Homo sapiens: one gene and its partners. The protein of the gene in region 2 binds, or shares a complex with, the protein of the main gene of each other region. Each region holds a gene or a part of one and is shown on either strand. Other genes may lie near its edges.

Region 1 (7,282 bases), on a different chromosome or scaffold from region 2:
CTGCACTCCAGCCTGGGCAACAGAGTGAGATTCTGTCTCAAAAAAAAAAATAATAATAATAATAAGAGGCCAGACACAGCGGCTCAAGCCTGTAATCTCAACACTTAGGGAGGCTGAGGTGGAAAGCTCACTTGAGCACAGGAGTTCAAGCCCAGCCTGGGTAATAGAGCACGACCCTGTCTATAAACAATTTAAAAATGGGGCTGGGGTGGTGGCTCACACCTGTAATCCTGGCACTTTGGGAGGCTGAGGTGGGCATATCATGAGGTCAGGAGTTCGAGAACAGCCTGACCAACATGGCGAAACCCTGTCTCTACTAAAAACTATAAAAATTAGCGGGACATGGTGGCACATGCCTGTAATCCCAGCTACTCAGGAGGCTGAGGCAGGAGAATTGCTTGAACCCGGGAGGTAGAGGTTGCAGTGAGCCAAGATTGCACCACTGTACTCTAGCCTGGGCAACAGAGCGAGACTCCACCTCAGAAAAAAAAAAAAAATTTAAATTAACCAGGAGGCCAGCTGTGCTGGTTCATGCCTGTAATCCCAGCCCAGGAGTTTGAGGCTTTAGTGAGCTTCATCGCATCACTGTACTCCAACCTGGGCAACAGAGACCCCGTCTCTAAAAAACCCAATCATAACAGGACCTGGTTATAGGGCGCTGATGGCAAGTCCCATGCTAAGTGCTTTCTGTGCATTCTTTCCAGTCCTGGGCACCTGGGCGTAGGTGTGGAGGCTTGGAAAGGTGAGGAGGCTGGCCTGAGGTGGACAGCAATCCCGGTCGGCCTGCGCTGAGATCTGCGGCTGTTGGCAGCCACATCATTTGCTATCAAAGTGACTGCGGCTCTCCAGGGGGTTGGAGAGGGCTTTTTCCTTCTGGGATCCCATGACGAGAAAGTAACGGGGAAGGGAGTGGGCCTAGACACCGCTTGGACCCGAGGGCCAAGCTCTTTTCTCAAAGCTCCACAGCTCTGATTCTTCTAGTTGCCCCGGCTGTTTGAAAAATGATCACTCCCCAAGGACAGATCTTGACAATGTCCTTTTAATTGTACTCTTTTCAAAAAATCTCCTTTCTCAGTTAAAAAAGACAAGGCATGATGAAGACCTGCTCTAGCCCATACTGGGCGGTGATCTCGGTCCTGGGGGAGGCCAGGCCGGACTCTTCCAAGGCCTCCTCCCTGGGCAGTCCCAGCAATGGGGCCAGTGGCAGGGCAGGTTCTCCCTGCCAGAACCCGATCCTAGCCCTTCAGAAGGACTGGACCTCTGTGTCCCTTCAGTGGGAAGCCACCTTGGACACACGCAGTCATTCAGGTGGACATAAGGCCACTCTTCTCGCCCTTGACCTTGAGGAACTCAGCCATGCTGGAGAAATACTTCTGGTTGGCCTCAGCCACCTTCTTCTCTGCCGCCTGTGGGTTCACAATCTCCAGGCCCTGGGCAGGTGAGGGAGAGAGGATGATGGGTTAGGTGAGGAGAAGGCCCCAACTGTGACCCATCAGAGCCCCCCAGGCCCTTCCCCATGGCACTCAGGCCTTGGTGGGCATGAGACAGTTTGCCTGTCCCTGGAGTTGCCCTGTCTTGGGAGATTCTGACTCAGTGGGTCTAGAGGGAGAGGGTGGGGAGGAACCAGGGCGCCTGGATTTGTACGAAGTTCCTCAGGGGTGCTAAAAACAACCAATGCTTGAGGACAGCCAATCCTGCCCAGTTTCTGCATAAGGAAACTGAGTCCCTGGGGGACATGGCTGGCCCGAGGTCCTAGCACAAATCACACCAACACCACTGACGATCATAGTGGCAGCAATGGGAGCCAACACCTGGCTGGCACTTCCTAAATATTTTCAAGGCAACAGAGCGAGCCCCCGTCTCTAAAAATAATAACAGGACCCAGTCATTGGGCTCTAATGGTGAGCCCAGTGCCAAGTGCTTCCTGTGCGTTCTTTTCAGTCCTGAGCACCTCATGATGGAGGAGGGGAGGCTTGGAAAGGCACAGCCACTGGCCTCATCTTCTCAAAGAGGCCCTCCCTGGCTGCTCCGAAACGAGAGCCTCCCCTGTCCCACCTCCTACCTTCCACCTCCTCCCCTCCCTGGCATTTCTGCCTTCTTTTTTTTTTTTTTGAGACAGAGTCTGGCTCTGTCGCCCAGGCTGAAGTGCAGTGGCGCGATCTCGGCTCACTGCAAGCTCCGCCTCCCGGGTTCACGCCATTCTCCTGCCTCAGCCTCCCAAGTAGCTGGGACTACAGGCGCCCGCCACCACGCCCGGCTAAGTTTTTGTATTTTTAGTAGAGACGGGGTTTCACCGTGTTAGCCAGGATGGTCTCGATCTCCTGACCTCATGATCCACCTGCCTCGGCCTCCCAAAGTGCTGGGATTACAGGCGTGAGCCACCGCGCCCGGCCTGGCATTTCTGCCTTCTACTACACTGGGCATCTTACTGAGCTGTCTGCGCCCGGCCTGGCATTTCTGCCTTCTCCTACACTGGACATCTTACTGAGCTGTCTGCGCCCAGCCTGGCATTTCTGCCTTCTCCTACACTGGACATCTTACTGAGCTGTCTGCGCCCGGCCTGGCATTTCTGCCTTCTCCTACACTGGACATCTTACTGAGCTGTCTGCGCCCGGCCTGGCATTTCTGCCTTCTCCTACACTGGACATCTTACTGAGCTGTCTGCGCCCGGCCTGGCATTTCTGCCTTCTCCTACACTGGACATCTTACTGAGCTGTCTGCGCCCGGCCACCCACTGGCTCCAAGAAGGTAAGACTTGTCTCTCATTCGTTGCTTCATCCCCAGAGCCGGGAACACTGACAGAACTCAGCAGGTGCTGCGTAGACACCCGCTGACTGGGCAGATGAGCTCGCTGCTGTCTCGCCTCCGTGGTGCAGGCTCGCCCTGCTCTGTGGATGGTAAACCGAGGCTCCGACGATGCGGTGACTGCCATGCTCCACGCTGCTCACTGCTGACTGGCTGGGGCCTGGACCCACACTTGACATCCAAGCCCGCCTAGCCGGGAACTTTCTCGAGTGGGGTCCTGAGGTTACCTTAACCGTCCTGGCCGTTTTGAACTGGAGGGCCTGGAGGCTGAGCAGTGTTACCCGCTCACAGCCCGACAGAGGAACTGGGTGCCCTGAACACAGCTGTGGGCCTGGTTCTAAAGCAGTGCGTGCTCACGAGGACTGCTCAGCGCTGGGCTCTCGTCTCTGCTAACCTCTTCCTGTGTGCCAGGAGCTGTCTACGTCCTCTGCATACCTCGTCACCACACCCTCCACAACAGCCCCATGAGGAGACTCATCCTGGCCTTCTTCACAGGGGCAGAGGGCAAGGGGCCTTGCCAAGGTCTCAGGGCTGGGGACAGAGCCGGCCCAGGGGAGGTACCTGGAGTGGGGTGAAGGCCACGCTGGAGGCCGTGCCCGAGGAGCGGTCGCGGATGGTGGACTTCCCGCCATATACGACGCTCTGCTTCTGCAGGGTCCGCTGTGGGGAGGACAGGGAGGCTGCGATCTGGGCTCCCCCCACCTTGTGTCCCTCGGTCCCCAGCCCCACCTGGGTCTGGCCCATACCTGCAGCGTCTTGGAGATCCTGGCCTTGGTGGCCTCGTTTACCTGTGTCTGCCGCACACGCCCACTGCCCGACTTGCCCAGGTGGCCCAGGCTGAATCCCAGGTCCTCCTGGTAGGCGTCCTCCTCGATCTAGGGGGGAGAGGAGGCGCCCTGCAGTTCAGCGACCAGGCCCTGCCCTCCAGCCACCGAGGCACCCCCTCCACCAGCCCGAAGCCCAGCGGTCACCAGCCGGCCGGTCCCACGGGCACCTGCTCCGGTACCCACTCGGCCCGGCTGAGGCCTGGGGGCCCACACACGCGGGGGATGCTGGGGAGCCTGAGAGGGGCCCGGTCCCAGCACTGCTCTGTGAGCTCAGAGTTGGGAGGCCATTCCTTCCTTACTCGTGTGGGTCGGGGGATGTCAGGAACCAGAACAGGTTTAATAGGATGAGGTGGCCTCTGAGTTCGGTCCTGCAGGACCAAGGGGATGACGCTGGGATAACAGAGGAGACTGGCGGGGCCCAGGGACGGGGCGGCCGTGCAGCAGGGCACTAAGGAGCCTCTGGGCAGGGAGGAACCGGCCAAGGAGCCCGGGGCGATGGGAAGCCGCGGGGGCTCTAAGCAGCGGAGACACAGGCTCCAAGGGTCGCGAGGGTCGCTTTGGGGCTGAACGGATGGAAACGAGAATAGAGGCCGGGGGGGGGGAGGCTGGGGCAGCGCCCTAGACATGAGCCAGGGCCACAGGACGAGAGGAGGGGCGGTGGCAGGAGGCAGAGGGCGGTGGCGGCTGGCTGGCTGTGGGGTTGAGGAGGGCGCTCTGGGAGTCTGACCTCTCCGAAGCTCATACGGTTGGCCTGCTTCCGGATCTCCGTCAGCCCCAGCCGCTCCTTCATCTTGCGGTACCTGGGGACGGGTGGGTGGGCGGCGCCAGGGAGTCGGCTGGGAGGAGGACGCCGGCTTCTCCCCTCCATGACCCCCATGCCTACCGGACCCCCAGGGCCCCTCACCTGCGGCCGCCTCGCTTCTTCCGCTGTCCATCCAGGGGCGCAGGCAGCGGCTTCACCTGCTTCACAGGCGGCGGCTCCTGCCACTTGTCGAATTTGCGCTCGATCTCATCCTTCAGTTCGTAGCCCACCTGGGGAGGGCGAGGGGGAGGTCCTGCAGCTGCTCGCGTGGGCTGCCCACCCAGGCCTCCTCTGAGCGGGCCCCCCGAGTATCCACGTGCCTTAGTTAAATCAGCACCTAATGCTGCCTCACCGCCACCCCCTTTCTTTTTCTTCTTGGTGTTGACTTAGCACCGCTAGACGCAGGACAGAGTTCACCTGTTGACTGTCTCTTTGACCCGGCCCCAACAAGAATGTCCACGCCACGGGGCAGGGGTCCTGTCTGTGCTACTCACAGCTGCACCCCCACACCCAGACCAGGGGTGAGATGGGGAGAGGGAAAGGAGAAGGGGACACGGAACACCTGAACGCTGTGCCAGGCCGGGTGCTTGGCAAACGACAGTTCACAAGACAGAAAACGTCTCCTCTCCCGAGTACATCTACCAAGGAAGACAGAAGGTAACTGAATAATTACTTGAATAACATCCCCTGTTGCAGCGGGGACAGATCCTGGTGTGGAAGGCAAATTACGCCCCCACCAACACACACATGCCCAAAGAGGCCCATGTTCTAATTCCCAGAATCACAGGGCAAAAGGGACGTGAAGAGGTTAAGAAGGATTTTAAGGATTGTGAGCTGGGAAGACTATCCTGGACCATCTGAGTAGGCTCAGTATAGCCACAGGGGCCCTTAAAATAGAAGAGGGGAACAAAAACAGAGGCGGAGATATGAAGACAGAAGCAGAGTCAGAGAGAGGTCTGAGGGTGCTATGTGGCTGGCTCCGCAGACAGAGGGAGGGCCACGAGCTAAGGGGTGCCAGTGACCCCTAGAAGCTGGAAAAGACCAGGGAATGGATTATCCCTTGAATCCCCCAGAAGGAACGCTCCAGGATGACACCCTGACTTCAGCCCAGTGAAACTCATTTTGGACTTCTGACCTACAGGACCACAGATAATAAACCTGTACTGTTTTTTGTTTTTGTTTTTAGATGGAGTCTCGCTATGTCACCCAAGCTGGAGTGCAATGATGCAATCTCAGTTCACTGCAACCTCCGTCTCCCAGGTTCAAGCAATTCTCCTGCCTCAGCCTCCTGAGTAACTGGGATTACAGGTGCGTGCCACCACACCCGGCTAATTTTGGTAGAGATGGGGTTTCACCATGTTGGCCAGGCTGGTCTCAAACTCCTGACCTTGTGACCCGCCCACCCTGGCCTCCCAAAGTGCTGGGATTACAGGCGTGAGCTACTGCACCCGGCCACACCTGCACTGTTTTAAGCCAGTAGGTTCATGCTACCTTCCAACAGCAGACCTAGGAAACCCCACTGGGGAAGGGGGTGCCTGACCCCAGGGAGGGTGGGCAGAAGCACTGCCTCCGCCTTGGTAGGACAGTGCTCGCTGGGGTGGGCTCCCTGCTGAGGGTCTCCCTGCAGAGACACCCCAGGCCCAGAGGAAAAGACGCCCGGCCGCCCCTCACCTTTCCCTCCTCACCTTCCCTTCTGTGCTCTCGTGGAAACTGTCCACACGGGCTGCCAGTGTGCACTTGGCGGCCACCAGCCGGGCCGCTTTCCGCCGCAGATCCTGGAGCAACGGAAAACGGGGGTGGAATCTGTGTGAGACAGACAGACAGAGGTAACAGCAAAGCAACCGCGCGCGCTCCTCCTCTGGCTCTACCTGGGGTCCTGGAAGGGGGCTTTCCACCCTTGGGCTCTAGAGGTGTGTGCTCTCAGCTCCTACTTCACAGGAAGAGGGGATGAGGGCAGGGCACAGAGCCATGTCCCAGCTGATAAGTGGCCATCAGGTAAGGATGACAGTAAGGCACGCTGACAACGAGGACGGTGGTGACTGTGGAGACGCCGGGGGGAGTGCACTCGGCCTGGATGCCAGCCCCATGCTAAGCACGCCCCTCGGATCATCTCATCAAATATTCAAATATCGGGCTGGTGTGATCATTGCACCCCCTTTTCAGATGTGGAAACCAAGGCTTCAAGTCATGTGGCCAGGGAGACAGCCAGCAGGTGATGGAGCCAGGGTTCCAATCCAAACTGCAAACAGAGCCCAGCTGTCAGCCACAGTGAAGCGATGGCCAGCCCTGGCCTCCCTTACAGGCCTGTGGTGTCTACGGCCTGTGCCTGGACCGATGTGAGATGGCCAAATGAAGAGGCAGAGGCCTGGGTGACAAGACATCAGGCTCCCTGGGGCAGGTTTAACCCATATGCCCAGGGCTGTGAGGCGGTGGCGATGGCAGGGGTGCAGTGAGGCAGCTGGAGCCCCGAGCCCCAGGCCCACCCGTCCTGGGTTCTATCGCCCACTCTCTCTCCTCCCAGGATGGGGTGACCTGCCAGCCTCCCTGGGTGTGTTCCAGTAGCAGTGCCTGACCTAAAGGGTCGCAGAAAAGACCACAAAAAAAACCCCACACAGGGCTGGGGGGTGGGGCCAGGAAGTGCCTGCCCAGCCTTGGCCATCAGTGCTATTGTTCTCCCCATCCCTGGGGGAGGCCAGGCAGGGCACAGGGCCGTGAGCCTGAGGTAACTCGCCACAGTTGGACAGAGCAGGGTCTGGACCCAGGCCTGTCTGTCCCAGAACCTGTCTTGCTTGTTTTTTTTTTTTTTTGAGACAGAGTCTCACTCTGTCACCCAGGCTGGAGGGCAGTG
Region 2 (7,822 bases):
GTAATCCCAGCTACTCAGGAGCTGTGGCAGGAGAATCGCTTGAACCGGGAGGCGGAGGTTGCAGTGAGCCAGACCAAGCCAGTGCACTCCACCCTGGGCAACAGAGTGAGACTCCCGTCTCAAAAACAAAAAGGAGGGTCACACTAGATGGTCTCTAAGGGTCCCTTAAGGCTGAGAAGTCTCATCTGTATCATGAACTCATATTTGCTGAATGAGTGAATGAAGTTTAGTAATTCCCAGTCACAACTTTTCTCTAAAATATAAATTACATCACTTGTATTTATCTTCTATACATATTCAGAAAACATGAACTGATTTGGTTGGATTGGTGAAGTCTGGTAGCATGAAATGTATCTTATGACACTATCACATTAATGGAAGGACAGCAAGCACTCCAGTTGCAGGTATGGTATAAGCAAAAGGCCACAGGGAGAACATACAGGTAGGGACATGTTGGGGAAACATGGTGTAGAGCAACTGTATTATATGCTTTATACCAAGGAGAGTAGTGGGAAGCTGAGTTGGATTCTTGGCTGGGTTAACGCAGAGTAACAGGGGCTTGGATGAATTCGACATCCTTTTCCATGTCCCAGCCCCCTGCCCAACACATAGTAACAGAACCAAAACACAAATTTGCATCATAAATTTTATTCCCGATGCGGGACAGATTCCTTCCATCCCCAAATGAATCACATGCTGCCCTGGAAAGACCTAGGAAACTCTCCTACCATCTCCAGAGAAGTAGTGAGAAAGGCAGGTGCTGGGGACTGGGAAGGCTTTGAAGTTTCCCAGCCTACTTATCCTCCCCTTCTCAAGAGAGGATAGCTGTTCCCTATTACTCCTCTCATCCACTCATCCCTTAAAAAAAACCCACAAAACCATCATTAGTAAAAAAACAAAACCCCTTCAAGTATTGGGGGTTAGGGGTTCTGGGCTGGGACTTGGGGTTATGGGTCACCAATGAAAGAGGGAGGGGAAGAGGAGGAGGAGCCATCACTGTTTCTGCTGCAGGGCTTCCTTCCTTGCCGCATCCTGTAGCAACTGTGTGTCGACCTCATCTGCTGGCAGCTGCACGTATCGGACCACTGAGCCCCGAATGAAGCAGTTCTTCACTGATAACTAGACAAAGATGGACAAATATGAAAACACCCTTAAAAATGTCCTCTAACCACCCAGGGGCCTCCTGCTTTAGAGGTGTTTCCTCTTCTCCACAGACCCCAACTCACCATGTGAGGGTATTTCTCAGGGTCTGTGACACTGATGTCAGTTAGTTTGATGTTGAGATACTAGGAAAGGAAGATGAACACCATTATTATTATTATTTTTTTTTTTTTGAGACAAGAGTTTTGCTCTTGTTGCCCAGGCTGGAGTGCAATGGTGCCATCTCGGCTCACTGCAATCTCCGCCTCCTGGGTTCAAATGATTTTCCTGCCTCAGCCTCTCGACTAGCTGGGATTACAGGTGCCCACCACCACGCCCAGCTAATTTTTTGTATTTTTAGTAGAGACGGGGTTTCACCATGTTTGTCAGGCTTGTCTTGAACTCCTGACCTCAGGCCTCGGCCTCTCAAAGTGCTGGGATTACAGGCGTGAGCCACCGTGCCTGGCCGACGAACACCATTATTAACCCTAGAGACATGATGTAAGAACCCAACCCTTAAGTCTCCCCTCTCCTTCTCCAGGAACCAATTCTGGGGCCCGTGCTATATCTCACCTGATCCACAGAATGGAGGGTTCCACAGATGCTGTCAAGGGCAGAGGGAGAGAAGAATCAAATTAGTTTATAACAAAGTCAACATAGAGGTGACTTCAGAGCTGGGATGAGAACATGACTGGGAGAAGTCAAGGACTTGAGGATGTCAGAAAAGGTAGAACCAAAAGGGGGCATTCCTAAGCCCTGGAGTAGGAAAGACAACTAACAGAGTAGTTTATTTTCAACCCCACATCTCCTCTCCCTAAACCAATCCATTCTTTTTTTTTTTTTTTTTTTTTTTGAGATGGAGTCTCACTGTCAGCCAGGCTGAAGTGCAGTGGTGTGATCTTGGCTCACTGCAACCTCTGCCTCCCAGGTTCAAGCGATTCTCCTGCCTCAGTCTCCTGAGTAGCTAGGACTTCAGGCGCATGCCATCATGCCCGGCTAATTTTTTATTTTTAGTAGAGATGGGGTTTCACCATGTTGGCCAGGCTGTTCCTTAACTCCTGATCTCAGGCGATCTGCCCACTTCAGCTCCCCAAAGTGCTGGGATTACAGGTGTGAACCACTGTCCCCGGCCAAACCAACCTATTCTTAACAGCTACCATTAAACAACTGGTAAAGGCTAGACCTGTATTCTATATAGTATTTGTAATCTTTACAGCCATCTTTCAAAGTAGTTATTACCTTCCAGGGGCTCAGAGAGGTTGTTTTAAACTTTATGAGTTTAGAACAAATGGGAACTTCAGTCCAAGTCTGTGTGACTCCCAAAACCATCAGCTATTTTTTTTTTATTTTTGCGACAGGGTCTCACTCTATGGCCAAGGCTGGAGTGAAATGGCGTGATCATGGCTCACTGTGGCCACTTGAGTAGCTGTGATTACAGGCTTGAGCCACCATGCCCAGCTGATTTTTTTTTGAGATGGAGTCTCGCTCTGTCGGCCAGTCTGGAGTGCAGTGGCACAATCTCGGCTCACTGAAAGCTCCATCTCCCAGGTTCACGCCATTCTCCTGCCTCAGCCTCCCGAGTAGCTGGGACTACAGATGCCGGCCACCACTCCTGGCTAATTTTTTGTATTTTTAGTAGAGACGGGGTTTCACCGTGTTAGCCAGGATGGTCTCGATCTCCTGACCTCATGATCTGCCCACCTCAGCCTCCCAAAGTGCTGGGATTACAGGCATGAGCCACCATTCCCGACTTTTTTTTTTTTTTTTTGTAGAGAAAGGGTCTCACTGTGAATGTCACCCAGGCTAGCTATTTTCAAACATTTATTGCTTTGGAACCAGAGCCCATATGTGGATAAAGGTAGGTAGCATTACTCTTGATGATGCAGGCATGAGTGATGTCCTCTCCATTCCCCAATCCTCGAGCCCCTTGAAATGCTATTTGAGGAATGCTATCAAAACACCAGTGCTCTTTGAGAGAATGGTGCAAAAATTTAAAAAAACAGCCTTTGGCTGGGAATGGTTGTTCACGCCTATAATCCAAGCATTCTGGGAGGCTGAGGCAGGAGGATCGCCTGAAGCCAGCTGGAGAACAGCCCAGACAACATAGCAAGACCTCATCTCTATTTTAAAGTTATAAAATAAAATAACTGTGGCCGGGCACGGTGGCTCACGCCTATAATTCCAGCACTTAGGGAGGACGAGGCGGGCGAATCACGAGGTCAGGAGTTCGACACCAGCCTGGCCAACATCGTGAAACCCCATCTCTACTAAAAATACAAAAAATTAGCTGGGCATAGTGGCAGACGCCTGTAATCCCAGCTACTCGGGAGGCTGAAGCAGGAGAATCACTTGAACCCGGGAGGTGGAGGTTGTAGTGAGGCGAGATCGAGCCACTGCACTCCAGCCTGGGTGACAGAGTGAGACTCCATCTCAAGAAAAATAAATAAATAAAAATAATCGTAATAAATAGCAGTTTTAAAAACGTCCTTATCTTGCCAAAAATAAAGTTGGCAGTTCTCTGCCCCAATTTTTGTAAAATTCTGAAAGTCTTTAAAACCCAGCGTCTAGGCCATGTGCGGTGGCTCATGCCTATAATCCCAGAACTTTAGGAGGCCAAGGTGGGCGGATCACTTGAGGCCAGGACTTCAAGACCAGCCTGGCCAACACGGCGAATCCCCATCTCTACTAAAAATACAAAAATTGGCCGGGCGTGGTGGCTCACGCCTATAATCTCAGCACTTTGGGAGGCCGAGGCGGGTGGATCACGAGGTCAGGAGATCGAGACCATCCTGGCTAACACGGTGAAACCCCGTCTCTACTAAAAATACAAAAAATTAGCCGGGCATGGTGGCGGGCACCTGTAGTCCCAGCTACTTGGGAGGCTGAGGTAGAAAAATGGCGTGAACTGGGAGGCAGAGCTTGCAGTGAGCGGAGATCACACCACTACACTCCAGCCTGGGTGACAAAGCAAGACTCCGTCTCAAAAAAAAAAAAATACAAAAATTAGCTGGGCATTGTGGTGTGCACCTGTAATCCCAGCTACTCAGGAGGTGAGGCACGAGAATCACTTGAACCCAGGAGGAAAAAAAAAATTTAAAAATAAAATATAAAAATACAAAAATTAGCTGTGTGTGGTGCATGCCTGTAGTCCCAGGTATACAGGAGGCTGAGGCACGAGAATCATTTGAACACAGGAGGTAGAGGTTGCAGTGAGCCAAGATCATGCCACTGCATTCCAGCCTCGGTGACAGAGTAAGGATCTGTCTCAAAAAAAAAAAAAAAAAAAAAAGACCCACTTAAATATGCTCTAGGAAATTAATTTAAATGAACTAGTACTAGGCAATCATTATTTTTTTTGAGACAGAGGGTGAGTCTCTGCCTAATAACAAAAACAAAAACAAACACCCAGTATCTGAAACCCACTGCCTCAGTAATGTTCTCACCATATTGCTAGCTGCTGAAAAACATTTGACAGCACCCCACCATCTCCAGCAGTGAAATAACATTTGGGAATTGTACAAAGTGGTGTCATTTTATTAAGTCCCTTAAGGAGGGGGAGATACATAGCACAAAAGTGGTCTGACAACAAACATAAGAGAAAGAACTTTTGGCCAGGCGTGGTGGCTCACACCTGTGATCCCAGCACTTTGGGAGGCTGAGGCAGGAGGATCACTTGAGGTCAGGAGTTTGAGGCCAGCCTGGCCAACATGGTGAAACCCCATCCCTACTAAAAATACAAAAAATTAGCTGGGAGTGGTGGCATGCACCGGTAATCCCAGCTATTCGGGAGGCTGAGGTGGAAGAATCACTTGAACCCAGGAGGCAGAGGTTGCAGTGAGCCAAGATCGCGCCACCGCACTCCAGCCAGGGCAACAGAGTGAGACCCTGTCTCAAGGAAAAAAAAGGAGAAAGATCTTCTTTCTCATCCCAACAGAAAAGTCACTTTAAAGCCACACACATATTGGCTCACACCTGTAGTCACTGCACTTTGAGAGGCTGAGGTGGGAGGATCACTTGAGTCCAGGAGTTCAAGACCAGCCTGGGCAACACGGCCGAGACTCTGTCTCTATGAAAAATTTTAAAAATAATATAAAAAGGCCGGGTGCAGTGGCTCACGTCTGTAATCCCAGCACTTTGGGAGGCCGAGGCAGGTGGATCACGAGGTCAGGAGTTCAAGACCAGCCTGACGAAGATGGTGAAACCCGATGTCTACTAAAAATACAAAAATTAGCCAGGTATGGTGGCAGGCACTTGTAATCCCAGCTACTTGGGAGACTGAGGCAGGAGAATCACTTGAACCCAGGCAGCAGAGGTTGCAGTGACCCGAGATCATGCCACTGCACTCCAACCTGGGTGACAGAGTGAGACCCCATCTCAAACAAAAATAAATAAATAAATAGAAAAAAAAGAAGGCTGGGCGCAGTGGCTCACACCTGTAATCACAGTACTTTGGGAGGCCGAGGTGGGCAGATCACAAGGTCAGGAGATTGAGACCATCCTGGCCAACGTGGTGAAACCCCTTCTCTACTAAAAATACAAAAATTAGCTGGGCGTGGTGGTGCATGCATATAATCCCAGCTACTCGGGAGGCTGAGGCAGGATAATCACTTGAACCAGGGAGTCGGAGGTTACAGCACCACTGCACTCCAGCCTGGCGTAGACTCGACCAGAGCGAGACTCGTCTCAATAAAAAAAAGAAAAAAGAAAAAGAAAAGAAATGTTACTACGGCCGGGTGCAGTGGCTCACACTTGTAATCCCAGTACTTTGGGAGGCTGGGGTGGGCAGATCACGAGGTCAGGAGTTGGGAGACCAGCCTGGCCAACATGGTGAAACCCTGTCTCTACTGAAGATACAAAAAATGAGCCAGGCGTTGTGGCGCATGCCTGTAATCCCAGCTACCAGGGAGGCTGAGGCAGGAGAATCACTTGAACCCGGGAGGCAGAGGTTGCGGTGAGCCGAGATCACGCCATTGCACTCCAGCCTGGGCGACAGGGCAAGACTCTGTCTCAAAAACAAAATAAAATAAAAAAAATAAAGGTACTTTAGGGCCTAGGGTTATAACACAACAGTTAGGCTTCCCATGTAAAAGGCCCAGGAAGGAGAAAAGAGGAGAATCAAAAACAAGTCATCACACCAAATTGCCTAAGACTGATAGTGATTACCGTACTTGTCTTGCTCTGTGGCCCCAATCTATACACATCAATATCACTTGCATTGCCAGTGCTACAAATGGAAACCTGTGTTCTAAAACGCAAAGGCCCTTAAGTCCCTCTCCTCACCATTCCCTGCCCTGTCAACGTGTAACCCATGAAAAAATTATCTCACATAGAAATGTGGAAGACAGCCAGACACAGTGGCACACACCTGTAATTCCAGCACTTTGGGAGGCCAAGGTGGCAGGACTGCTTGAGCCCAAGAGTTTCAGACTAGCCTCGGCAACACAGTGAGACTCTGCCTCTCCAAATAATTAAAAAATTAGCTGGGCATGGTGGCATATAGCCCCAGCTATTCAGGAGGCTGAGTGAGCTATGGTGGTGCCACTGCACTACAGCCTGGACAACAGAGTGAGACCCCCATCTCAAAAAAATAAATGTGGAAGACGCTTTTGGGAAGAGAATACAATTGATCCCATCTTTCTAAAGGATAATGAGGTAACAGGTATCAATATTTTAAATGTACTTTTTTTTTTTTTTTGAGATGGAGTCTCAGTCTGTCGCCCAGGCTGGAGTGCAGTGGCCTGATCTCAGCTCACTACAACGTCCGCCTCCCGGGTTCATGTGATTCTCCAGCCTCAGGCTCCTGAGCAGCTAGGATTACAGGCGCACAACACAACATCTGGCTAATTTTTGTATTTTTAGTAGAGATGGAGTTTCACCATGTTGGCCAAGCTAGTCTCAAACTCGTGACCTCAGGCATCCACCCGCCTCGACTTCCCAAAGTGCTGGGATTACAGGTATGAGCCACCGCATCTGGCCTAAATGTACATATTATTTAAAGGACTGTACAGATAAGTACAGGGCCAGGTGTGCTGGCTCATGCGCGTAACCCCAGCACTTTGGGAAGCTGAAGCAAGAGGACTGCTTGAACTCAAAGAATTTGAAACCAGCCTGAGCAACAAAGTGAGGCACTGTCTCTAATTTTTAAATAAATAAATATTATTTTAAGAAAGAAAGTAGGACTAGGCGCAGTGGCTCACGCCTGTAATCCCAACACTTTGAGAGGCTGAGGCAGGTGGATCACAAGGTCGAGAGTTCAAGACCAGCCTGGCCTAGATGGTGAAACTCCATCTCTACTAAAAATACAAAATTTAGCCGGGCATGGTGGTGGGCACTTGTAATCACAGCTACTAGGGAGGCTGAGGCAGAGAATTGCTTGAACCCAGGAGGCAGAGGCTGCAGTGAGCCGAGATTACGCCATTGCAGTCCAGCCTAGGTGACAGACTGAAACTCCATCTCAAAAAAAAAAAAAAAGAAAGAAAAAAAGCTGGACAGAATCATATTTCAGTTGTGTCACTTACTAGTTTTGTAGACTTGAACAAGTGGTATAGCTGATCTAAGCCTCAGTTTCCTCGTGTAAAACAGCAATAGTATATATTACTTAGCAGTGTTTGAGAAATCAATCAATAAATGTATTCAGAATAGTGGTTAGTCAATACGTCTTCGGATATTATTTTTCTTTCTT
Region 3 (7,822 bases), on a different chromosome or scaffold from region 2:
CTCAATGTGCACCAAGGTTCAGGTCATACTTCCGATGTCAGGTCTGGAGATCAGATGCACCCTGAGGCTTTCCCATCAGACCCTTGGGTTGGGGACCCCCACTCATGGTGACCAGCATCCAGCTCACTGGGTCCTTACATGCGTTTGTCGATCATCTTGCAGAGGTTCAGGGTCTTGTCTGTAAGCTGTGCCCAACCTCGGTTCAGGACAATTTCAAATATCGCTCGCATCAACCGGCCAGCCGACTAAGCAAAGAAGCAGCATTCCCACTGTTAAGTCTCGACTATCCCCAGGCCTCATGAGCCACTCTACACACGGTTTCATTACCTCCAGCTCTGACACAACCACCCACCCTAACTCAAAGGCAAAGTCCCCTCTGTCTTTACGCCTTTCTCCGTTCCATATAGTAGATGCTTGCCGGATGGGGAACAATTAGAAGAGTGCTGCGGCTCAAGGTCACTGCACAACATTTTAACCTAACATTCACTGCATGATTTTAAAGCTTTTGAGTCATTTAGCATTTAGAGTTCTAGGAAGAGTTGAGGGTACCAGTGACCTGTTCTTAGAGGTAAAGATGAAGAGCAGCTAATAAAACCCTGTGCCATTTTTGGATTTATTTATGAGCTGTGCAGCAACAGTGGGAAATCACTTTGCTGCTGGGAAGCAGACACTGCGTGCTGTGGCTCTTCCTGTCTCTCTGAGGGCCCGTGGAGCCTCGAAGCATTCCCTCTTAAGGTCTTACCTTTCCCACGTGCTCAAGATGTATACTACAGAGTGGCTGTACCACACATGCACCAACCAACTACCCGGCAAGAGCAGAACTAAGCACTCCTCCCATCTCACTAGGGTCGGGCCTCCTTTCCCCAGGATGCACACAGCACACAGGGATTGAACTGTTCAGGCCCCTTCTCACAGCTGCCATACAACTCCGCTCTCACCTGTGTGACATACACCATGTCAGCCATCAGTGCAAAGCCCTCCAATTTCAGCTGTGAGATGAAGGCTTGCAGAAGAACGTTGATCTGTAAAGAAGCAAAATCAGCCAGCAGGAGACCAATCACTGAACAGTCCAAGAAAGGGAATTACATTTCTGCTCTGAGCATCCAGGCCAGGTGAGATTTGCTACAGGTCTTGATTTACAAATACTAAATAATTGTTATTTCATATAAAAAGAACATGCGAGAAGGCTGCAAAAACTAGGAGAACTGAGCAGGAAACCACACATGAACCCAAATTCAAGGTTCATCTTTTAGAAGATTATGAAAACCACTTAATCCTCATCCTTATCAAAGCAAAGAGGAGAGGAGCTCACCTTAGCACTGGGTTCCTCAATGCTCTCCTTTACAGGGATAGGCACCCTCTCCAGCAACTTCTGCAGCTCCAGCTTCTCCTCCTGCCACAAGGAGGAAAAGGTCAAGGGAAAGCCTTGTGGCCGAGGAGGGACACCATTCAGTGACTTGGTGAGCACCAACTCCCCGCCCCATCATGCTGCATAGGCTCACCTCTCTCACTGTGATGTTCTTGAACTCAGAGGACAATGAGAAGACCCTGAAAAGCTCAATCTCACTCAGGGTGGGCTTCAGCAGCTGGTTGTAAGTCTGCACTGTATCATTGGTGATGTAGTAGTGGCTGGCTATACGGCCCAGTTCTGTCACCTGGAGAGAAGGTAGACTCAATCCAGTGCTGACTATTAATGAGCTCCAACCTCTAACTGTGGACCATAAGTTACTGTCCTATAGGTTTTTTGTACTTTTTTTTTGGTAAAGTATATGACCCAATGTCATTATTGTCCTAATAGGACAACTGGATGAAGTCACAGCAGTACAAGTGCCAGGCCCAGGCACATGAAGAAAAACAGCAGAATAAGCTGACCCATAGTGAAATGATGTCTGCACGGACAAGACAGCTGAATTATCCACCTCAAGTTATGGGAAAAGCTACCCATTTTTCTGCTGTTCTAAGCAACAGGTGATTAGATAGGCAGTACTCACATCAAGAGAGCAATCTGAAAAATTTTTTCCTGGGCCAACAACTTTTGCTGAGACCTTTGCCTCAAAACCCTCACCCCACGCACCTGGAAGTTGCCCGTCTTCTTGTCGTACTTGACCAGATTGTTCTTGTCCAGCATCAGGGCAGCTGTATGAACCAGATCTAGTCGGCGCTGGTCCAGCAGGGGATCTCCCTTGAGGTCATCATGAGAGATGCCATAGAGGGTTGGGGATCGCAGCATTCGGATATAGAGGTAGGCATAGCCCAGCCAGTTCACCGCATCCTACAAGACACAGCTCATGGTTCTTAGCATGGAGAAACTCTTGATGTCCAAATGACAGGCTCCCATGAATTGCTTAGAAATTAATTCCCAACTACAAGGATGCATATTACATCGTATTCTGAATGTTTTTAGCATTTCATTATTAAAAAGATCTAAGCGTCTTCTAAGATCTTGGTAACAAGGGGAACTATCTGCCAGACCCAAGATGTGGGTGCAGGGATGGAAGGCCTCGGACGCTGCTGGCCCGCAGCACAATAGGGACCGACCCACTCCTGGTGCCTTGGTGTCTGCGGGGAAAGCATGAAGCACAACAAGCAGTCCTCCCCTACCTTGGCATTCTGGACATTTCCTAGCACGATTTCTGCATTGAGCATGTCAGGAAGCTTTGAAACCATCTGGCTTTCAATAGGAAGTTGTTGATTGAGGAGGGACAGGTAGTACTGTAGCTCCCCATGAGATGTGATGAGTATGCCTTCACCCTTGGTGTCATACTGGGGTCTTCCGGCACGTCCCAGCATCTAGATCAGAGACAGCGAACCAAGAATGCTATGTCAAGAGAATGTCTGAATTTTGATGCAGGTATCTACATTACAGAACTAGACCTCTGATCTGCTAGCTTTCCAGCATCCCTGCATTTCAGGCAAGGATACTGATCCCTGCTGAGAATAAACTCAAAAGGCTCTGTACCTGCAGAATGTCCAGTGCTCCCAGTTCTGTCCAACGCCCCTTCTCTGGACTGTACACCTGGGTGCCTTTGATGATGACTGTATGTGCAGGGAGATTCACACCCCAAGCTAGAGTTGCTGTGGAAACTAAAACCTACAGAGGCAAAACAAGGTAATGAGGAGAACAGATGCCATCACCAGGGGTTAATATCCCTGGCTTCTCTAGGCAGTTGGCCTCAGAGCTTCTCTCAGGACTAGCCGGTAGGGCGCGTGGGGTCCCAGTACTTGTCAATGTGACACCAGAATAAAGAGGAAAGGTTTCCTTGGGTTCCTCATCTATTCAGTAATGAACATTTCAAGGTTCCAGAGGCACAAGTGCAGACTTGTATTAAACAACCTTAAAGTTACTAGAAAAGGTAAAACAGAGCCTATCCGGAAAGAGGGAACGACAAGGGCACGCGTGCCCCCATGAGACACTGTTTGGAGCTATCTGAAGTCACCAAAGTGCTTGCTTCACTATGCTTCTCAGACTATCCTAAACTCAAGCAAGGTGGGAAGAGTTGGGAGAGTAGCATAAGGTTCTATTTATTGTGTCCACCACAACCCTCTGACCTGGGCTAGCTGGGCCAGAAGCAATAAAGTACCAGGAGCAAACATGGCACAAACTTGACATTGCCCATCTTCTGAAGTATGTCCCACCTGCTCCTCCAAACGCTTTGCACCCCCTCACCTGAATATGTTTATCAGCAAAAAGATCCTCCACGAGTGTTCGGTCAACCCTGGTCATGCCTGCGTGATGAATAGCAAAGCCATAAGGCAGAAGATCCTTCAGCTCTAGGTTCTGTGGAACAAAGAACCGGGGATGAGGCGAGCCTTCCTGTAGGACTCATCCAAGGACTAAGGAAATCTCCTCCCATGAGACCCTGCCCCTTAACTATTATGTGGAATAGTAATAATCACATCCAGACAATCAACCTTAACCCATGGGAAACAACAATACCACAGTACAGTCCTAGAGGAGCTGTCTGGGGCCTGAGATGGACACAGCTGCCAGGTAGGAATGAGAGAACCCAGCTGGCCCCTCCTCACCTTGCACTGCTCAGCTTCTGTTCGCAGGACTTCTGTGGAGGCTGAGCCCTCCCTCAGAAACAGACCCAGAGTGTCCTTTTCTAGGCACATGTCCCGGATGGCCCTGGCTGTCTTTCCAGTCTCCTTCCGGGAGTGGACAAACACCAGCACCTAAGGAGAAGCCACAGTTTGCTACAGTCACGAGATACTCACAGCCCCAGGGCACCTGCAGCAGGAAGCAGAAGTTGCACCATCACCACCAGAAGCCAAGGTCCTGGAGAGGGGCAAGGGCAGGAATGTGTGCAGGCTCAGAGGAAGCCTAAACACGGCTGGAAAGACTTTTAAGGGAATGCACCCACCAAGTTCACAGTCCTGGAGCTGAGAAATTAAACCAACTTCAACATCCTATCTTGAACAGCAACTTTAAATAGACTACAACTACAAATTCGGGCCTCTCAACTCAGAATTTATGTTCAAGCACCTAACAAGAGTCAAAGCTGCATGAAAATGTGTCTGCAAAATAACAACTAAAACATTACACTACTTATAAAAGGATTTAGGAAATAAGTCTGAGACTAGTACACTGTTGTAGGGAATGAAGTCTTCCTAGTATTTAGTGCCAAGAAAAGATCTGTCTCTTCATATAAATTCATATGCTTCTTTTCATCAGACAAAAAGAAATACAAAACCAGTCACTTTTCCTTATTTTTTGTTAGTTAACATTGCTCAACTCGACTTTCAATTTAAAAATTCTATCACACTGTCTAGTAAAATGCCCTCTAGTTTTTCATTTTCCTCTTTTTATTGTCTTGCATTTTTAGTGTAAGTGACCCCAAATCTTTTATGGAGGGACCCTGGATAATGCGAATGCACAAAACAATTATCTGGGACTGGGGATTGCTTGCTGGGGGGATTTTTAATTCTCCAACTCTCTAATAGTTGTAGGGCTCTTCATGTTATCTATTTCATCTGGGCTGAGTTTTGCTAGTTAACTGGTAGTTGTTGGAGAACTGGTCCATTTCTTCTGAATTTTTAAAGTTATGAGCATAAAATTACTCATAGTATTCCCTTATTATCCTTCCAGTGGCTATAGGTTCTGTAGTAATATCCCATTTCATAGCTGATATTGGTGATTTATGTTGTGTCTTCTCTCTTTTAATTTCTGTCAATCTTCCCCAATTATTGGTGAATCAAACATTCGAAAGAATGGGGTTCAAGAGTAACCATAAACCACGGGCAAACCTGATTTTTTCCAGCATGTTCCATGATTTTTTCATAGACGATTTCATTCATGATCTGGAAACGCTTGATAGCTTTTTTCTCTGTGATACCCACATATGTCTGTTCCAGAGGCACTGGACGGAAGCTAGAAGTTCAACAGTTAGACAAATGAGGCTTTGGCAGAAAATACTGTGGGAATAAACAGTCTTTTTCACTGCCCCAAGAGCAATATTCCTCCTTTATGATTCACACCACATCAAAACCCAAAGGCCCTTCTAAAACCCAACCCAGTAGCACTCCTTGGAAAAGAGGAAAGAGAGCAGGATGGTCACCTTGGCAGAACTTTGCCCAGTCTTTCCTGATACCTGTTGTCAAAGTAAAAGAGACCCTTGGCAGGGTCAACACGTAGAAAGGTGGCTACATCTTCATAGTTGGGTAGGGTGGCACTGAGACCAATGAGTCGGACATCCTCTTGGGTCATCTCAATGTTTCGGATGGCCCTGGCCACTAAAGCTTCTAAGACAGGACCTCTGTCATCGTGGAGAAGATGAATCTCATCCTACGGAATTGGAGGACAGAAATTACCTCTAGCACTAGAGATACATAGTCCCTTTTCCTGGAATTGTCCCATATTGTAGGCATATAACCTAATATGCCTAAGAAAAAAGACAAGGGATCCCAAGCCACAGATGCCCAAAGGATGGAGACAATATTTCCCATGAAATACTCCAGAAAGTAACAGACTCTGACCATGAGTTGCTTTGGTACAGTTCAGTAACATACTTTGTATAAAGAAATTCTGAAACTCAGATAAATGAGTTTAAACTTTACTTAAAGGTAAACTTCTTTATGAAAAAGGATATAAATATGATCTGATCAGAAGCTTCACCTCTGGCAGTTATAGTTCCCAAGAACAAAAGCTATCACACATCAAATGATGAGTTTGAATAGTCTAAAGCAGTGCATCTCAAATTTTATTAAGTATCCCAAAGCCAGGGGATGTTGTTAAAAAGGAGATTGTATTCAGCAGGTGTGGGGTGAGGCCACAAATCCTGCATTTCTAACAAGCTCCTATTCCATGCTGCTGCTGCTATGACCCCAACCATGGATCAGGCTTCAAGTAGCAAAGCTCTAAAGCAGGGACCAGAAATGTTTTTTTTAAAAAGTCAGATGCTCCATCTCAAAAAAAAAAAAAAAAAAAAGCCGGGGGCAGTGGCTCACGCCTGTAATCCCAGCACTTTGGGAGGCTGAGGTAGGTGCATCACCCAAGGCCAGGAGTTCGAGACCAGCCTGGCCATCAGATTGGTGAAACCCCATTTCTACTAAAAATACAAAAAATTAGCTGGGCATGGTGGCGGGCAACTGTAATCCCAGCTACTCGGGAGACTGAGGCAGGAGAACTGCTTGAACCCGGGAGGCGGAGGCTGTAGTGAGCTGAGATTGCATCATCGCACTCCAGCCTGGGCAACAAGAGTGAAACTCCGTCTAAAAAAAAAAAGCCAGACAGTCAGTATTTCAGGCTTTGGCCCACGCAGCCCCTATTGCAAATACTCAGCTCTGCCATTGCAGCCAAAAGCAGCTGTAAACAATACATAAACAAATGGGTGTAACTATGTTCCAACAGAACAAAGCCAGTACCCACAGACTGCCAACCCCTGCTCCAGAACACTGAAAACCAACACGTGAAGTCTCCTTTCTTGCTTTTCCCAGACAACTTAAACTATACTCAGACTTAGTCACTAATCTCTGGAAGTTTCTGTGTATATGGAATACAATATCCTGCTTCCTCACTCATTCCCTCAGAGAATGGATTCTTTTACTTATAAAACCCTAAATGATGTTGGATATGATGGTTTTTTGTCTATCTGTTTACATTTGTTTCAAAATATTTCAGACATAGCTTCTTGGCCTTTTGGCTTAAGATCAAGTGTAGTAAAATATTTCAGACATAAAAAAATATATAAAGAATAACATGGCAGGCTAGGCGCAGTGGCTCACGCTTGTAATCCCAGAACTTTGGGAGGCTGAGGTGGGTAGATCACGAGGTCAGGAGTTCGAGACCAGCCTGGCCAACACAGTGAAACCCAGTCTCTACTAAAAATATAAAAATTAGCTGGGCATGGTGGCAGGCGCCTGTAATTCCAGCTACAGGGGAGGCTGAGGCAGGAGAATTGCTTGAACTCGGGAGGCAGAGGCTGCAGTGAGCCAAGATCGTGCCACTGTACTCAGCCTGGGCGACAGAGCTAGACTCCATCTCAAACAAACAAACAAACAAATAAATAAATAAATAAGATGGCAAACACAAGCTGACAATAGCTGTCATTATAATGTTTTGGATGGCCCTGGCCACCAAAGCTTCTAAGACAGGACCTCTGTCATCGTGGAGAAGATGGATCTCATCCTACGGAATTGGAGGACTAGTCATTACAAAGGCTAGTGCCTACAGAAAAGGCAGCAAAGAAACATTTCGCATGAAAACCCAGCAAACCCGCCCTGACACAACTGGACTCTATATTCTACGACTGCTCCCAACTCACCAGAATGATGAGCCGCACCAGCTGGGTGTAGGTGCGCTCACCACCCTTGCGGGTGATGA
Region 4 (7,801 bases), on a different chromosome or scaffold from region 2:
TCTTTAGGGTAATTCCAATAGATAATTCCTGCATTTCTACAATGTGCATATATTACCTGTACATTGTTTGTTTTCAATAGGAGTTCATGGAATTTGAAATCAGAAGAAAAATCCTCATTACAAAACAACAGCATTTTAATTGAATTTTCTAAGTGATCATTTCCGGTTGTTTAAATGCACCTGTTCAAATCAAAGTTCATCATTTTGTTTGGAACAACTTTTGTTTGAGAATCAAATGGTCACGTAAATGACAAAACAAATAAGCATATAATGACAGAAAAGTAAGTGGCAAAATAACTACAAACTTTGTTCCACTGGCTACTGCAGTAGAATAAACAAAATGACAGTTAACCAAAAACACCTTTATTTTCATCTGCAAAGAAGAAGCTCTTTTCTTCTTTTTCCAGGATAATCATGATTAACTTACAAAAATGGGTACACATCTTCAAAGCACTTCCCTTTAACGGGAAACTTAGCTTTATGGGATTTAAACATTAGAAAGTGGGAAAAAAAATTCCATTTTCTTGTCATTATAAGCCAAAACAAAATCTAGTGTAAGTCAAGGAAACTCATTCACACTTCAGGTCCTTCTCCTCCAGGAACCAGCTGCATAAAGAGGAAAAAGAGTTTATTAATAACACTACCACCATGTCATCTAAAAACCCCTTGCTCTTCATTAAGCCACCTTTGCCTGTCCCCTGCACTCCACGTTCCCATTTTCTCCAGATTGTCAGTATCTATTTACAATTCCCAACGTCATCAATTAATACTTACTATCTCAACAGCGATTAAAAGTTCCAAGCAAACTAACCTTTAGACCCAATGCCTCTTCAATAGCTGAGCTTTAGGACCCTGACCACAGAGAACCCCTTTCCCATCTTATGCACCACTGGGCCATGATCATTTAGTCAAGCAAGCAACATTAAGGTTAGTTCTGTAATCACTGCTCCCCAAAAATGGGCTCCCATCAAAATAAAACAGTTTCAATGTGTCTTACCATTGTTATATTATTTCCATTTAGCAAAATCTGATCTAATTTAGTAATCCTTCTTCCTTCTGGTGTGATTTCACTAAATGAATAGATAAAATACAGTCAGGACAAACAGTGAAAATCAAAGCCAACATTTTGGAAATACTTACCCTCCCTAAAAAGGTTATCCTTGTATACAAATTACACTGAGGTTGAGCAATTATATCCACAATTTTCAGATACAAAGGTTATCCACTAGGTAATGTAACCTTCATTAAAAGCAGCAGAATGAACTCACTGACACTAAGACCCACGTCTATCAGACAGAGCTTCATAAAAAGAAGTGAAAGCTTGCCCAGGAAATCAAATATGAAATGAAATGTTTTTTGGGTTTTTTTTTTTTTAAGAGACAGGGTCTTGCTCTGTTGCCCAGGCTGAGTACAGTGGTACAATCATAGTTCACTGCAGCCTAGAACTCCTGGGCTCAAGGGATCCTCACCCTCCAGAGCAGCTAGGACTACAGCTGCCCCCTACTATAACCAGCTAATTTTTAAATTTTTTATAGAGACAGGGGTCTCCCTTTGTTGCCCAGGCTGGTCTCAAACTCCCAGGCTTAATCCTCCTCCTTTGGCCTTCCAAAGTGCTAGGATTACAGGAATGAGCCACCATGTCCAGCCTAAATGCTCTTACTATCAGTTCCTTTATTTGACCTGAACCCTAAAATTCCTGGCTCTTTTTGTTATCTTCTACCTTAAAACTGTGTCTCCACTAATATTCTAGGCGTTTACTAATAATTACATTAAGGTAATAACACTCTGATCCAATTTTACAAGCAAACAGATAAAACGTCTATCTTTAACGTTATTCCACCAAGAGGTAATGTTTTCTCATAAATAATTTTACTCAAAAGTAGTAAAACTGTCTTTAATTAAGAAGAGATTCCCCCCAATTCTTTAACACTACTCACAACTCAGTGACATCTTCCAGTACCATATCTGAAATTTGGTGTTAAGAAAATAAATACAGAATTTACTCTAGCTTCTGCCTTTGTTCAGCTTTTGTTTTTTGTTTTTGTTTTTGTTTTGAGACAAAGTCTCGCTCTGTCATCCAGGCTTAAGTGCAGTGGTACAATCACACCTCACTGCAGCCTCCACCTTTTAGGCTTAAAGGATCCTCCTGCCTTAGCCCCGGAGATTAGCTGGACCCACAGGTGTACATCACCATGCCCAGCTAATTTTTGTAATTTTTGTGGAGACAGGGTTTCATCATCTTGCCCAGGCTGGTCTCAAACTCCTGGGCTCAAGCGATCCACCCACCTCGCCCTCCCAAAGCGCTGGGATTATAGGCGTGAGCCACTGGGCTCGCCTGTTCAGTTTTAATTACAATGTTTAATACAATGGCTCAAATTCAAAATGCTTGTTGTTGATAGGAACTTTACCGTCTTTCAATACATACCTCTTAAAACATTATCATAAGTTCCCTGAGAATGAACTGATTTTTATTATAATAATCACAAATATACTGATTGTCTATAGTTCTTATGTTATTACTTAAGAAAAACCTATACCACCACCACCTTTTAAAAGGATACTGACAAAGTCATCAAATCCTAGAAGAGTACCAACAATTTCCTTATCACTCTTCATCACGATGTGAATTCTTGATCCTATACATTTGTCCACAAGCTCTGAGGAGGGAAAAAATATTATTTTACCATTCATTATTTCAACAAATATTTGAGTGCCTACTGGCACTCTTACTTGCATATAGTGAAAGAAAAACCAGGAAAAACATTCATTCAATAACTTTAGGTCTTATAATACAAATCTCAGTTCAAGCACAGCATCTGGCACATAATGAGCCTTCCAAAAGAGTCTGTGGCATGAAGGAATGAAAACTTTTCAATCACGGCCACGACCACTAGTTCAATCACTCTTCACCAACTACAAAAATATAAGAGGAGATAGGTATAATTATATTCACCGGAAACTCTCCGGTCACTGCTTCCCTTTCCCAACTCTGTCTATCCTCTGTGCTCTGACGGTAGCTTGAACATCTCTTTAGCTAGCCTAGCATTATGTGGCATGATGTCTACTTGTCCAGTGTTCTCTCCTCCACTGGCTTGTGTGCTATTTGAAGGCAATGGCTATGGTTTATCATTGAAAAATGCCCAGGCACGGTATCTAGTGTATAGATACTCAGTTACTACTTATTGAATGAATAAATAACAAACAGAGCTGGTTTCCAGATTCCTCATTTAAGGCTCATTCCGGACCAGGGTGTTAGTGTCACTAACCAACCACATACATAACATGGTCTATCTAATCTGGGGATCGTAAACGCCAGGCTGAGAAGTAGGCCTACTACCTATAACACTGCAGAGGCGGGCTCACAACAAAGTAGGCCGACGACGCGTTCACTAAATGTGGACCTTTTCCAGTGAAGGTCTGGTTTGAGAAGTCAAAGTCCTTGCCTGGAGGAGCCCGACCACGTTAAAGAGCAGGTGCGGCCTGCTGTCGCGAAGACTTGGAGCTCAGAGTCGAACCGCATTTGGTCTTATACATTTCCCCACACTCGGCCAGGGCCTGCCTCGGAACAGCCCCTCGGCCCCCAATCCTGAATGTCAGCTCCCTGTTCCTGCTCCCCAAAGGACGGCGATTACCTAAGGGCAGCAGCTGCGACGGGTTGGTAGTAGCGTTAGCCGCCATGGCTACGCCGGAAGTGGCCTGCCTTCATTGATGGTGGGACGACTTTGAAAAGCGCGCTTCCGCTTTTTCCGCAGCCCAAACAGGCTCGACCAATCTGAGGCCGAGCGCACGATCTAGTCAGCTGCGTGGGTCGCGTTCACTGGCTTTTTTCCCCGGCAAGTGAGATCCGGTGAAATATTTCCTGCCCACTGGACATTTTACCATCTCGGCAGATACCCATAATGCCCTTGAAGTTTTGGAGAGACGTTGAAGATATTTTGCCTTGTGAATAAATTGTTCCTGTAACGTTTGAGTCTTCTTCCCCCGTAAAGTTGCATTTCCTCTCAAGCCAGAATCTTCAAACCAGTATAAATCAATTCGTATTTCCTGCCATCAATTAACTGTTACAATTTTCGTTACAACTACTCATTAAGGAATCTATTGTTTCTTTTTAAAGTCCAGTGGATTGAAAATCTGCAACTAGCATTTTTTAAAATTTTTCTTTAGTGAGGATTTAAGATATGTTTTTTAAACTTTTTACTACTTTAATTCATCGTTCTTATCTTTTTATGTCTGGTAGTCTTATTTATTATAGGCTTTTAAATTCAGTTTCTTCAACAATTCTTGTCTCACAGGCAACCACCAGATGTCACTCTAAATTATTCCAGAAGTGTAAAATCATGCTTTCCACTTCTGTGTTGAAAACAGCAAAGTATCGGCCCTAGTCTGTTTTATATTTGTATCCTAGGAACTTAAACCTGAACAGTCTAGGTCAGGCGCAGTGGTAACGACTGTAATCCCAGCACTTTGGAAGGCCGAGGCGGGCGGATCACCTGAGGTCAGGAGTTCGAGACCAGCCTGGCCAACATGGGTGAAACCCCGTCTCTACTAAAAATACAAAAATTAGCTGGGCGTGGTGGCGTGCGCCTGTAGTCCCAGCTACTCGGGAGGCAGAGGCAGGAGAACTGCTTGAACCCGAGAGGCAGCGGTTGCAGTGAGCCTAGATCATGCAACTGCACTCCAGCCTGAACAACAAGAGCGAAACTCCATCTCAAAAAAAAAAAAAAAAAAAGCTAAACAATAAACATGAGCGGCCACAAAGAACGTCATTCATTCATACAACAAATGGTCATTAAGCACCCATCATTCCTTCATAGACTGAGTTCCTCAAGGCTGAGAATTATGGGAAGCAGTAGTTTACGTGATTAAATTTCTTCATTTTGAATTAAATGACTTTGGTTCAAATTCCATGGTCAGTTATTTGACAATGGGCAAGTTATTTTAACTTTTTAAGTCTCAATATACCCATTGGAAAAAATGGGGACAACAGTATCTACTCATAAGATTAATGTGAAGATTAATTGAGATAATCTATGAAAAGTGGTCAGCATAGGACCTGGCACATAGCCCTTTTAAACATGAGCTGTTATTACTTATCCTTGTTTTCTAATACATGATGTCTGGCTCAGAGTGAAGCTACATAAAGCTAGCATTGCTAGCTGGTTTTGCATTCATCTTATTTTTATAACCAGACATAAGCCACTTTAAGGAAGCAATTTCTTATTTTATACACTGTGCACACTACATTTTCAGGCACACTGTAGGGCGCCTAATGAATATTCTTTAAATTGATTCTCACTATTTCATTCACACCCATCAACATTCTCCTTACTCTTCATAAGATTTTAAATACGAAGTAATGCCAGATTTGTTTGTGACGCTTCTTTCTTTCTCTTTCTCTTTTTTTCTTTTTGTCCAATCCTCATTTGGTTGAAAACCACCTCTTTTCCTGGTTTTCCTTTTCTATTCCTATTTTATTTTCCCCATACCATACTGACAGTATGGGAGAATTCAAAACATTGTTGTTATTTGATAGAGTTTTTAAAAATTAGAAAAATAGGCTGGGCACAGTGGCTCACGCCTATAATCCCAACACTTTGGGGGCCGAGGTGGGCGGATCACGAGGTCAAGACATGAAGACCATCCTGGCCAACATGGTGAAACCCCATCTCTACTAAGAATACAAAAATTAGCTAGGTGTGGTGGCACACGCCTGTAGTCCCAGGTACTCAGGAGGCTGAGGCAGGAGAATCGCTTGAACCTGGGAGGCAGAGGTTGCAGTGAGCCAATCGTGCCACTGCACTCCAGCCTGGCGACGGAGTGAGACTCCATCTCAAAACAACAACAACAAAAAAAAAACAGAATAAACATTAGCAATTTTGAATGCCACTAATAAAGAATAAAGAAAATCTCTTTAGAATCTGAAAAAAGGAACGATATATAGTTCACTTACATAGTAGAGTTAATGGGGATTTCAGGGAGTGGTATTTTTATTATTTTCTCTCCTGAGGCAAGACACAAAAAGGAAGAACAGGCCAATTCCAAATGGAGAGTTGTTATGAACTTGAAAATATGTCATAGCTCTATGTCTCAAGGATTTTTCTCCCTTTAAGTCTTAAGTAGAAGACGTAAAATAGAATTTATAATTTATCATAAAATACATGTAACTACCAAAGGCTCTTCCATGTATTATATGTTCAGAAAGGCATTTCTAATTTTCTCCCTCGAGTTAAATTAGAAATTTTATTATTTTCCCAATAGACATTTGTCCTTGTGGACAATATCTTGTTAATGAATTTATTCTACATTAATACAACTCATTTAAAACATAATGTAAGATGTGCATGGTGGCAGGCAACTGTAGCCCCAGCTACTTAGGAGGCTGAGGCAGGAGGATCCCTTGAGCCCAAGAGTTTGAGGCCAGCCTGGGCAACATAGCAACACCCCATCATATTTTATTTATTAATTTAGAGACAAGACCTCACTCTGTTACCCAGGCAGGAGTACAGTGGTGTGCTCGCGGACTCAAGCAATCCTCCCATCTCAGCCTCCTGAGAAGCCAGTACCACAGGCGCGTGCTACCAAGTCTGGCTATTTATTTTTTATTATTTTTTGTAGAGATGAGGTCTCATTACATTGCTCAGGTTGGTCTCGAACTCTTGGACTCAAGTGATCTACCCACCCTGGCCTCCCAAAGTGCTGAGATTACAGGTGTGAGCCGCCATGCCCCACCTATATTCTAAATTCTTAAGTGGTCCAGTCTGTGTATTTAGAGATGAAAAAAATCCTGGAAATTCCCTTGTTCACTTTCTGTCTCAATTTTCCCAGTAACTAACTTTTTCTTTCTCTCTCTCTCCCTTTCTTTATTTTTTTGAGATGGAGTCTCATTCTGTCATCTGGGCTGGAGAGCAGTGCAGTGACACCATCTCAGATCACTGCAACCTCCACCTCCCGGGTTAGGGTGATTCTCTTGCCTCAGCCTCCCTAGTAGCTGGGATTACACACACCACCATGCCTGGCTAATTTTTGCATTTTTAGCAGAGATGGGGTTTCACCATGTTGCCCAGGCTGGTCTCCAACTTTTGGCCTCAAGTGATCTGCCCGCATCGGCCTCCCAAAGTGCTGGGATTACCAGCATGAGCCACCACGCCTGACCCTCTTTTTATATATATCTTTTTTTTTTTTAGAGGAAATCTCGCTCTTGTCCCCCAGGCTGAAGTGCGATGGTGCAATCTTGGCTCACTGCAACCTCCACCTCCCGGATTCAAGCAATTCTCCTGTCTCAGCCGTCCGAGTAGCTGGGATTACAGGTCTAATTTTTGTATTTTGTACTAGAGAGGGGGTTTTACCATGTTGGCCAGGCTGGTCTAGAACTCCTGACCTCAGGTGATCTGCCTGCCTTGGCCTCCCAAAGTGCTGGGATTACAGGCGTGAGCCACCACACCCGGCCCTTATATACATCTTTAAAAGGTGTTCAATTAGACAGTAATTTTAGCCATGCCAATTGTGGAAAATATCAAGACAGGTTATATCAAGAAAATATTAATAGTTAACACATCACACAGCTGACAGCTCAAAACAGTTAATATATTAAGAAAACAGTTAATATATTCTGCATACAGGGAGCAATATAGTTTTACACAGTTTTCTTAGCCAATGCCAATAATTTTGTAATACAGAAAAGAAATGTATAGCAGCATCTTGAAAAATGTCTGCAGTATTAGCATTAAAACAGTTCTACTGAATCACAGAAACTAAATTTGATTTAGGAAGCCTACTGTTTTTCTCAGCTATGGTTAGATTA

The links.
Region 1: LSM2 (region 2) and PRPF31 share a complex: the UniProt entries of both Homo sapiens proteins name them as parts of the U4/U6-U5 tri-snRNP complex.
Region 3: LSM2 (region 2) and SNRNP200 share a complex: the UniProt entries of both Homo sapiens proteins name them as parts of the U4/U6-U5 tri-snRNP complex.
Region 4: LSM2 (region 2) and LSM5 share a complex: the UniProt entries of both Homo sapiens proteins name them as parts of the precatalytic spliceosome.

The regions. Positions count from the first base shown.
Region 1 is NC_000019.10:54,125,455-54,132,736, reverse strand, and holds the end of PRPF31 (U4/U6 small nuclear ribonucleoprotein Prp31), read right to left. Parts: intron 6,238-7,282; coding exon of another isoform or gene 6,210-6,237; coding exon 6,120-6,209; intron 4,665-6,119; coding exon 4,537-4,664; intron 4,433-4,536; coding exon 4,360-4,432; intron 3,681-4,359; coding exon 3,552-3,680; intron 3,466-3,551; coding exon 3,367-3,465; intron 1,431-3,366; coding exon 1,305-1,430; 3' UTR 1,024-1,304; downstream 1-1,023. UniProt on the Homo sapiens protein: Involved in pre-mRNA splicing as component of the spliceosome. Required for the assembly of the U4/U5/U6 tri-snRNP complex, one of the building blocks of the spliceosome.
Region 2 is NC_000006.12:31,796,764-31,804,585, forward strand, and holds the end of LSM2 (U6 snRNA-associated Sm-like protein LSm2), read right to left. Parts: intron 1,745-7,822; coding exon 1,714-1,744; intron 1,287-1,713; coding exon 1,227-1,286; intron 1,120-1,226; coding exon 994-1,119; 3' UTR 633-993; downstream 1-632. UniProt on the Homo sapiens protein: Plays a role in pre-mRNA splicing as component of the U4/U6-U5 tri-snRNP complex that is involved in spliceosome assembly, and as component of the precatalytic spliceosome (spliceosome B complex).
Region 3 is NC_000002.12:96,287,725-96,295,546, forward strand, and holds part of SNRNP200 (U5 small nuclear ribonucleoprotein 200 kDa helicase), read right to left. Parts: coding exon 7,764-7,822; intron 5,786-7,763; coding exon 5,592-5,785; intron 5,372-5,591; coding exon 5,248-5,371; intron 4,177-5,247; coding exon 4,027-4,176; intron 3,779-4,026; coding exon 3,668-3,778; intron 3,092-3,667; coding exon 2,960-3,091; intron 2,791-2,959; coding exon 2,602-2,790; intron 2,273-2,601; coding exon 2,075-2,272; intron 1,656-2,074; coding exon 1,503-1,655; intron 1,394-1,502; coding exon 1,313-1,393; intron 1,023-1,312; coding exon 939-1,022; intron 246-938; coding exon 139-245; intron 1-138. UniProt on the Homo sapiens protein: Catalyzes the ATP-dependent unwinding of U4/U6 RNA duplices, an essential step in the assembly of a catalytically active spliceosome. Plays a role in pre-mRNA splicing as a core component of precatalytic, catalytic and postcatalytic spliceosomal complexes.
Region 4 is NC_000007.14:32,486,688-32,494,488, forward strand, and holds the start of LSM5 (U6 snRNA-associated Sm-like protein LSm5), read right to left. Parts: upstream 3,694-7,801; 5' UTR 3,679-3,693; coding exon 3,633-3,678; exon of another isoform or gene 3,338-3,632; intron 2,658-3,337; coding exon 2,562-2,657; intron 1,966-2,561; coding exon 1,938-1,965; intron 1,071-1,937; coding exon 998-1,070; intron 607-997; coding exon 574-606; 3' UTR 1-573. UniProt on the Homo sapiens protein: Plays a role in pre-mRNA splicing as component of the U4/U6-U5 tri-snRNP complex that is involved in spliceosome assembly, and as component of the precatalytic spliceosome (spliceosome B complex).